2 separate regions of the Homo sapiens genome follow, and region 2 is linked to region 1. Evidence: fine-mapped expression QTL. Tissue or cell type: neutrophils. Region 1 holds a variant in brackets; the other region holds the start of a gene. All regions are shown on one strand. Distances are between the middles of the regions.

The links. PIP is the estimated chance that this variant, and not a neighbour inherited with it, causes the effect.
Region 2: it holds the start of COA8, and the variant in region 1 is fine-mapped to the expression of COA8 in neutrophils (BLUEPRINT, PIP 0.95).

What each region holds. Positions count from the first base shown.
Region 1 is chr14:103,240,680-103,245,823 of GRCh38, reverse strand. It overlaps the pseudogene RPL21P13. Among named protein-coding and RNA genes, the nearest start is that of LINC00605, 54 kb to the right of the region's middle. RefSeq lists an enhancer at 1,066-2,265. The variant A/T (reference allele first, on the strand shown) is at 2,729.
Region 2 is chr14:103,560,140-103,565,283 of GRCh38, reverse strand. COA8 (cytochrome c oxidase assembly factor 8) reads right to left here and starts at 2,324. Exons shown (of 5, transcript NM_001370595.2): 1 at 2,160-2,324. The coding sequence starts at 2,282. BAG5 (BAG cochaperone 5) reads left to right here and starts at 2,627. Exons shown (of 2, transcript NM_001015048.3): 1 at 2,627-2,668; 2 at 4,092-5,144. The coding sequence starts at 4,120. RefSeq lists a silencer at 2,370-3,019 and enhancers at 3,360-3,409, 3,509-4,022.

The DNA.
Region 1 (5,144 bases):
GCATCATTCTCAGCAAACTAACACAGGAACAGAAAACCAAACACCGCATGTTCTCACTCATAAGTGGGAGCTGAACAATAAGAACACAAGGACACAGGGAGGGGAAAAACACACACCGTGGCCCTGTTAGGGGGTAAAGGGCAAGGGGAGGGAGAGCACTAGGACAAATACCTAATACATGTGGGGCTTAAAACCTAGATGCTGGGTTGATAGGTGCAGCAAACCACCACGGCACATGTATACTATGCGACAAACCTGCACGTTCTGCATGTGTATCCCAGAACTTAACGTAAAATTAAAAAAAATAAATAAAAAGGCAGTCCTGCATGCATGGGTACCTTCCACCTGGAGATCCCCAGCTGAAGCTGATCTGCAGCCAGTTACCTTATTCTTCAGACCAGGACGAGAAGTGGGAAATTAATTAGAAATCACTCAAAAAGTTAAATGGGCTGGGTGCGGTGGCTCACACCTGTAATCCCAGCACTTTGGGAGGCCAAGGCTGGTGGATCCCTTGAGGTCAGGTGTTCGAGACCAGCCTGGCCAAAATGGCGAAACACCATCTCTACTAAAAATAAAAAAAAATAAAAAATAAAAAAAATTTGCCAAGTATGGTGGTACACATCTGTAATCCCAGCAACTTGGGAGGCTGAGGCAGGAGTATCACTAGAGCCCAGGAGGCAGAGGTTGCAGTGAGCTGAGATCACGCCAGTGCACTCCAGCCTGAGCAACAGAGTGATGCTCTGTCTCAAAAAAAAAAAAAAAAAAAAAAGGCAAAATGGCTGCAAGATGGTAGAAAAACAGACCCCTCACGTGATTTACATGATTGATTACCTTTAGGAATAGGAATGCTTTCCAGATTGGGATTTTATTTGCATCATATTTTTTATTCTTCACTTGATTAGGCTTTGTATTTCTAGATGTCTAAAGTCAAGAATAAAAACGAAAATCATGATAGCTAGAACACTTAGGAATGATCCGCGACACCACAGCTTCTCTCCAAGCAGGCGGCCTGGGATCCCGCTGCTCTGTCCCGTTGTGCTGCCAATATCTTCTGCCTGGAGACCTCACCGAGTTCATGAGCCAGAGCACCTCTCCTCTTACCCCCCCCCCCCCCATGGGAATGAGCCTTCCCAGTGATGCTGGGCAAATTTACACTTAAAATGTTGATCAGCTAGGTGCAGGGGCTCACGCCTATAATCCCAGCATGTTGGGAGGCCAAGGAGGGTGGATCACTTGAGGCCAGGAGTTAGTTCAAGGCCAGCCTAGGCAACATGTTGAAACCCTATCTCTACCAAAAATACAAAAATTAGTCAGGCATGGTGGCATATGCCTGTAGTCCTAGCTGCTCCGGAGGCTGAGACATTAGAATTGCTTGCACCCTGGAAACAGGTTGCAGTGAGCAAAGATCACACCACTGCACTCAAGCCTGGGCAACAGAGTGAGACTCTGTCTCAATAAATAAATAAAATGTTAGATGCAGTTAGGTTTCCTCTTCAAACAGCTTATCCAGTTTCCTCATTCTCTATCCTACAATTCCAAATACCCCCTTGCCTGTGCTGCACCGCAGCTTGTCTGAATATGCCTAGGCATGCCTGAACTTGCTACAACCCCAGTCCACATTTCTTTCCTTATTAGGGAATAGGTTACCCTCCTAGTCCCTCCGTAAATGACCCCCCTTCTCTCCCTTCTCACCTCCCTTACGTGCCTACCTTATCTAAGAAAGTTTAAATGTTTAGCCAACTGGGACTAGTTTAGACTGTGTGGTCCAACCCTAGCCAATAGGGGAAAGACACAGAAGCAGAAGCTGTGTTAGACATAATAAAAACCCCTGCTTTCCTTTGTTCTGTGTGCTTTTGCCATTACTTCACATGTGAGATGCACATACCCTTCTGCCGAAGTAAATTTGCCTTGCTGAGAGATCCTTAGTCTCAGTGCTGGTTCTTCTTTGAGGCACCGAGCATTTGTTTCCAAAAAATAAATAAAATAAAATAAAATATTGATCATCAATACTTTCAGAGAGCAAGATCTTGATCCAAAGGAGGAAATAAGAAAGAGAAGTGGCTCAGAGCAGCCTGAGGAATGTGAGACCTGCAAACTTATCAGGCCCAGAGAACAATGATGCCAGCAGCTGTGCCTAGGGTTCACTGTTCAAAGGCTTTTTCTTTCCTTCCCTGTAGTTTCCAGGCTAGCTGACTGTCTAGACTTCCTAAAAGTTACCACAAATTGTACAATGTGATCCTTATCCATGTCAATGAAAAGAGTCAAATTCTGTGAAATATGTTACAGGGTTTATTCTAAGCCAAATATGAGTGACCATGGCCCATAGCATAGCCCTCAGGAGGTCCTGAGAACATGTGCACAAGGTGGTCGGGGCACATATAGCTTGGTTTTATATATTTTTAGGGAGACATTAGACATCAATCAAATATATTTAAGAGGGACTGGCACAGTGGCTCATGCCTGTAATCCCAGCACTTTGGGAGGCTGAGGCGGGTGGATCACAAGGTCAGGAGTTCAAGATCAGCCTGACCAACATAGTGAAACCATCTCTACTAAAAATACAAAAAATTAGCTGGGCGTGGTGGTGGGTGCCTGTAATTTCAGCTACTCGGGAGGCTGAGGCAGGAGAATTGCTTGAACCCAGGAGGCGGAGGTTACAGTGAGCCGAGATCATGCCATTGCACTCCAGCCTGGGTGACATTGTGAGACCCCATCTCAAAAAAAAAAA[A/T]AAAATATATATATATATATATGAAATATATGGGTTTGGAGGTTCCCTCTCTTGGCTTTGGAGCCCCCCATCCCTCTGTTTCTGTACAGGGGAGCTTCTTCCTTCTCCCATCCTTCTTGCCCCTTCTTGCCTATTAAACTCTCCACTCCTTAAAACGAAAAAAAAAAAAAAGAAAGAAAGAAATACAACGGTTTGGTTCAGAAAACTGGGACAACTCTCAAAGCGGGAGCTTCCAGGCTGTAGGTAAGTTTAAACATTTTCTGGTTTACAATTGGTTGAGTTTATCTGAAGACCTGGGATTAACGGAAAGGAAATGTTCAGGTTAAGATGAAGGATTGTGGAGACCAAGTTTTACTGTGCAGAGGAAGTTCTCAGATAGCAGACTTCAGAGAGAGCAGGTTGTAAAATGTTTCTTATCAGACCTAAAAGTGTACCTGGCTCTAGTTGATTATCTCCTGGATCTGAAAAGAAAGGAAGGAAAACAAAGGGGAAAGGGGATTCCAATAGAATCTGGATTTTTCCCACAAGAGACTTTGCAGGACAATTTCAAAGTATGGCAAGGAAATGTATTTTGGGGTAAAATATTTTGATTTTTTTTCGTTGTTATGCCAGAGTCAGGTTGGAAAGTAAGTCACGATATACAGAGTTAAATAAAACCCATCTGATGAGAATTTCTGCTTTGTAGCGCATGACTCCCCAGACCCCTTAGAAAGGAATTTGGGCAAGATAAAAAATCAGAGCTTAGTCCTCGCCCATTATCTTCATGTTTCTGAAATGTGTGATACAAACAACAACGTTCAGCCAATCAATAACTGAAGCTTTTTGTTGTAAATTATTTTATTTCTTCCTTGATGATTTAGAGGGACTATCTTCAAACCAGTACAAATATTTCATACATAATACCTGGCCATTTTCTAACTCATTGAGTAATTTGTTGCACAGTAAGCTACCTCACGTCTTTCAGCAGGAAATGCATTACGTTTGAATGGTGAAGACATTACATAATGAATTAGGACACAACTAAAATTTACTTTAAATAGTTCTTTGGGGGAGGGGGCACCACACTTCTCAATGAAGAGAAACATTTTTATAGTCCAGAGGTCTTTTATTTTATTAACACCTATTATGCCATGAATCCATAGGGAATAGGTTCCAGCAGTTCAGGCTCCTTCCCGTTGGTTCTCACAAAGTGTGCTTCTCTGGGTGGAGCAGCCTGGAGCTTAGTTGAATCCAGGTACCTTTCTCTGTGGCTTCTGTCTCTTTCTGATCATTTTCCTTCACGCGTTTCAGGAAGCTATCTCGGCTCATAGAGGGCTTAATGTGCTCAATACGCTCATTAATTCTCTTGGCAGGAATCTTGCCCTTAACTTGTTTGTCTACAGCAATGCCAACAGCATGCTGGGGAACACTGTAGACTCTTCCAGCTTTGCCATGGTGACACTTGCGGGGCTTCCTTTTTGAACAGTTCCCATTCTCTTGATGTCTACAGTGTCACCTTTCTTATAGATTCACATATACGTGGCCAGAGGAACAACTCCATGTTTTCCAAAACGCCTGGAGAACATGTACCGGGTGCCTCTCCTCTTTCCCTTTGCATTCATCATTTTGGCGAATTCCTGGAAGATGGCGGTTCTGGCCAAAAGGCACTGATGCCATTTTAAAGAACCAATGTACATTCCTGGTAAACGACCAAACTGCTCCTTCAATTTTCCTTTAAAAATCCATTTGCATCTGCTGCTTGTTGGAGCTTATCGCCAGGGTAACTTGAGTCTATGTCTCCTGGGCTTCAGTCCTCAAACGTGGCCCAAATAAACTCTCTATTTATGTTAATTTTGCCTCAGTTTCTTCCTTTATGTTGATGCAATAAAGTTCAAGAATGGGTAAAACCGATTCATGGAGTTAGAAGACGTGAAACACAGCCGTTACCTTGGTGGGGGAAGTTGGGAAGGGGTGGGAAGCGGTGTCACAGGTGTTGATTCCGTGGGTGGGCTTGCTTTGTAAAAATGTTTCCAGCTGTAGGTTGATGATTCGTATACGTTTCTGCAGGCATGTTGTGCTTTCATTTAATAATCTTAACATCTTTAGGCAATGGCTCTGCTGAGACTTTGCCCTTGGATGCTGTGAGGGGCCCGAGGCTCAGGCCACCCCATCTGGCTCAAGACACTGATTTCCTGTAGCACAGATGAGAGCAAATGAGAATCCGACAGCAAGAATTGCTAAGTGCTTGGGGCTGACAGCAAGGAAATCTATAGCAAAGAGACTGCCCACCCCTGGGGCCTCTCCTCTTTTTAAGCACCACTGCCCACCCCACCCCTGCCATCAGCCCTGCCTTCCTCCTGGGGAATGGCGGGACAGCTCTACCCATGACAGTGGTCTCTGCCCTGATCCCTGATCGAAATGACTGACGGCAAACTCT
Region 2 (5,144 bases), 320 kb before region 1:
ATTTTTCAATTAAAAGCTGGTGCTGGCTGGGCATGGTGGCTCACACTTATAATCTCAGCACTTTGGGAGGCCAAGGCGGGTGGATCACCTGAAGTCAGGAGTTCGAGACCTGCCTGGCCAGCATAGTGAAACCCCATCTCTACTAAAAAAAGAAAAAAAAATTAACCAGGCGTGGCAGCATGCGCCTGTGATCCCAGCTATACTCAGGAGGCTGCGGCAGGAGAATTGCTTGAACCCAGTAGGCAAAGGTTGCAGTGAGCCGAGACTGCGCCATTGCACTCCAGCCTGGGCAACAGAGCAAAAACTCCATCTCGAAAAAAGAAAAAACGAACAAGGCAGAGAGGTCTCTCATCTTGAGAACAGACCCATGGTAAGATTTATTTTACTTTAACAAGAAGTCTAAGGCTGAGAGTGGTGGCTCACACTTGTAATCCTAGCACTTTGGGAGGCCCAGGCAGGCGCATCACTTGAGGTCAGGAGTTTGAAACCAGCCTGGCCAACAGGTGAAACCCTGTCTCTACTAAAAATACAAAAAAATTAGCCGGGCATGGTGGTGGGCCCCTGTAGTCCCAGCTACTCGGAAGGCTGAGGCACGAGAATCGCTTGAGCCCGGGAGGCAGAGGTTGCAGTGAGCTGAGATCACGCCACTGTACTCCCACCTGGGCGACAGAGGGAGACTCCAACTCAAAAAAAAAAAAAAAAAAAAAAAAAAGAAGTGTATATGACAATAGAGAAATCCTTATTTGGGTGCTGTTGTTTCTTTCCAGCACAAGTTCACAAAATAAGCTAGGGAAAATCCCCCCCGCCCGGGAAATGTCTTGGTTGATTTCCCGTTTGCTCTCTTAGAGCATTTTCAGACACCTGCTCTATCTTTCTGCCCAAAGATAGAGATGCTGGGTGGGTTTCTATGTTCTAGGGATAGAAGGCAAGGACTTGGTCACTGTAACACAGAACTGAGCTAGCCACTTGGGTGTCTGGTTGGCAAGTTGCCCTGGTAACTCCTTGTTTAAATTGTAAACTAGATAGACCTTCAAAGCTACAATTATGAAAGTGTACTAACAGCCACAGCCCAACAGAAATGAAAATGTACAAGCAAGTACATTTGCAATTTTTAATTAGCTTTTTTTTTTTTGAGATGAAGTCTCCCTCTGTCGCCAGGCTGGAGTGCAGTGGCGCGATCTCGACTCACAGCAACCTCCGTCTCCCGGGTTCAAGCGATTTTCCTGCCTCATCCTCCCGAGTAGCTGGGTCTACAGGCGCGCGCCACTATGCCCAGCTAATTTCTGTATTTTTAGCAGAGACGTTTCACCATGTTGGGCAGGATGGTCTCACCTCTTGATTTCGTGATCCGCTTGCCTCGGCCTCCCAAAGTGCTGGGATTACAAGCGTGAGCCACGGAGCCCGTCCAATTTTTAATTAACACTTTTTTAATACTTCTTTAATTATTGTTTAAACCAAGTTTTCCAGCCTCCTTCATTAGCCTGTTTGGTATTTGCATGCTTTGCTTGAATATTTTATCTCCAGCCCATTCCACACCGTTAGTCAACATTTTCATCTGACAGACGGAATCAAGGCCTAGGCCTCCCTTAAACAAAACATCCCTCCCAAAAGTACCACTTATAAAAATTGCTTGCCACAGACATTCTTGCTACAGACATTCTTTGCGGATCTTTGGCCAGTAACATGCATATACCCACACATAGTTTGCAAATAACAACTATTCAACGTGAAGTGCTACAAAAGTACGATGATAAAGTGCTCGCCGCTTGAAGAAAAGCACTAATAATTGTAACAAAGCCAAAACACACACACACACAACGAAAAAAAACGCACGGTAAGCCAAGAGCTCTTTAAAAATAAAAAATAATCATTCTCGGGAACAAATAAGGTAGGTACAAACTTGCCAGGTGACTCTGTTACGCTTAAAGGTTCTGGCTGTCAACAGTCCCCGGCGTGGTGGCGGCGGCACCCTCAGTCCCATCCGACTGAGGGCGTTGATGCGGGAGCCTCGGGGCTGCGGGACTGTTCGGGATAGGACGCGAGAGCACCTGGACAAAGGCCTGAGGCGGCTGTGCAGAACAGGGAGTGGCCCCGAGGCCCGGGTTTGTCTTCCCTTCCGGTCACCCCTCCCGGCCCAATGTCCCCAGGCCCCTGCTTACCCCGCTGGGCGCCGTATCCCTGCGCTCGGCGCCGCGCTCCGGAGCGAGTTGACAGCCGCGGCAGGCGAAGGCGCGGCAGAGAGGGGGGAGAAAGGTCTTCTTCCCCGCCCGCAAGACCACCATGGCCCCACGCCCCCTGGCTCCCGCGGCGCACGGCAGCATTGCGACGGCGCGAGGGGCCGCTTTACGGCAGGGTCGCGAAGCCCGAGGAAGCGCGGCGGCGCGGCCGACCGTGCGCTTTCCCAGCGGTGCGACGGGGTGAGGGGGCGGCGGGCGGCGCGGGCTGACCCGGGCGGCCGCTCCTTGGTCGCGGTCACTCCAGGCTGCCTCGCTGCGCCGCTGGCGGTGGGCGTGGCGCTGCCGGCGGCTAGGCGCGGACGCCGGAGGAGGTGTCCCCGGGTTTAGGGGTGTTCGGCCAGGGGCGGGGCTGCCGGGCCCGGGCGACTGCCGGAGCTGCGGAAGTCGTGGAAGCGTCGGCGACGCATCGCGCGATGGCGCGGGCGGGACAGGTGAGCGAAGCGCGGCTTGTAGCCTTTTCCCTCTCTCGGGGGGACGAGTGGGGCACCACCTCCGCGCGGGGCTCCCCGCTGGGCCACCCCTTCGCCAGCGCCCAGCCCCGTGCGGCCTGTCGGATCAGGCAGGGCAGAGTCGGTCTCGGCGCTGTCCCCGCCCCTGGGGTCGGAAGCGACCGGGGCTGGCCGGGCCTGGTCTCTGGTGTCTCCGGCCGGGCCTCGGTTCCCCTCCTCCCCCGGCTTCCCCCGGCCGGGCCGAGCTCCCCTCGCGCGCCCATTGTGAGGTCACGTCCTGCAGGCGCGCCCTGGCACCCGGGCCAAGACGCCCGGAGCGGCTGCTGCAGCCAGTAGCGGCCCCTTCACCGGCTGCCCCGCTCAGACCTAGTCGGGAGGGGTGCGAGGCATGCAGCTGGGGGCCCAGCTCCGGTGCCGCACCCCGTAAAGGGCTGATCTTCCACCTCGCCACCTCAGCCACGGGACGCCAAGACCGCATCCAATTCAGACTTCTTTTGGGTAAAGGGCCAAGAGGGAAGGGCGAGGCGGGGAGGAAGCAGCTCGGGCCGCCTTCCCTCCGTGGCCTCCAGGACATCCGCCGGGGATAGATTATGCGTTTCCATTGGTTACCCACCTTGAGCGAGCCGTTTGATAGAAACCAAGAGCTTGAAACGTGCATTAGGCCATTGTGGACTCCCAGTGGGAGGCGAGTGAATGAATTATTCATAGTTACCACGTTTTCGCGGGTTGTTTTTTTTTGAGAGAGTGGAGCATGTTGGGGGCTGAGGAGGTGTTGGGCCTCGAAAGCCCAAGGTGGTGCCCTTCAGCGCTGTCCCGGTCGCTCTTCTTTACCTGTGGGGTTTTAATCTCTTCAGGGAGACTTCTGTGAGGGAAGATGTGTGAGGAGCTAAAAGGGTGGGGAGGGGAAGTGCACAAAGGGATGGAGAGAAACGAAGAAGCGGGGACCTTGGGGATGTCTGAGAGCCACTGGTTTTTGTTCTGGTTCTTTCTTTTGCTTAGAGTTTCTGGAAACTAGGCATAGCTGTGTGGCGGGGCGGGGTACTGTTAGTGTTCGGAAGGTTACAAGAGCTACTGTTTCACCTTTCATAAAGGTGCCCTGCTGGTTCCAAATAGTTTGTGTCGCGTACGGTGACTCACACCTTAATCCCAGCACTTTGGGAGGCGGAGGCGGGCGGATCGTCTGAGACCAGCCTGGGCAATATAGTGAGACCTGTCTCTACTAAAAATAACATTAGCTGGGCGTAGTGGTGTACGACTGTAGACCCAGCTACTGGGGAGGCTGAGGTGGGATGACTGCTCAGAAGTATACCTTTTTAAAATGAGAATTTTAGAATGACTTAATATACCATTAGTGTTCTGCAGAAGCCTTGTGCTGTAGTAAGTTATCATTCTTGTCGTCTTTTAGTGCTTGTGAAACTGAACACAACAAAAGTATGGATATGGGAAACCAACATCCTTCTATTAGTAGGCTTCAGGAAATCCAAAAGGAAGTAAAAAGTGTAGAACAGCAAGTTATCGGCTTCAGTGGTCTGTCAGATGACAAGAATTACAAGAAACTGGAGAGGATTCTAACAAAACAGCTTTTTGAAATAGACTCTGTAGATACTGAAGGAAAAGGAGATATTCAGCAAGCTAGGAAGCGGGCAGCACAGGAGACAGAACGTCTTCTCAAAGAGTTGGAGCAGAATGCAAACCACCCACACCGGATTGAAATACAGAACATTTTTGAGGAAGCCCAGTCCCTCGTGAGAGAGAAAATTGTGCCATTTTATAATGGAGGCAACTGCGTAACTGATGAGTTTGAAGAAGGCATCCAAGATATCATTCTGAGGCTGACACATGTTAAAACTGGAGGAAAAATCTCCTTGCGGAAAGCAAGGTATCACACTTTAACCAAAATCTGTGCGGTGCAAGAGATAATCGAAGACTGCATGAAAAAGCAGCCTTCCCTGCCGCTTTCCGAGGATGCACATCCTTCCGTTGCCAAAATCAACTTCGTGATGTGTGAGGTGAACAAGGCCCGAGGGGTCCTGATTGCACTTCTGATGGGTGTGAACAACAATGAGACCTGCAGGCACTTATCCTGTGTGCTCTCGGGGCTGATCGCTGACCTGGATGCTCTAGATGTGTGCGGCCGGACAGAAATCAGAAATTATCGGAGGGAGGTAGTAGAAGATATCAACAAATTATTGAAATATCTGGATTTGGAAGAGGAAGCAGACACAACTAAAGCATTTGACCTGAGACAGAATCATTCCATTTTAAAAATAGAAAAGGTCCTCAAGAGAATGAGAGAAATAAAAAATGAACTTCTCCAAGCACAAAACCCTTCTGAATTGTACCTGAGCTCCAAAACAGAATTGCAGGGTTTAATTGGACAGTTGGATGAGGTAAGTCTTGAAAAAAACCCCTGCATCCGGGAAGCCAGGAGAAGAGCAGTGATCGAGGTGCAAACTCT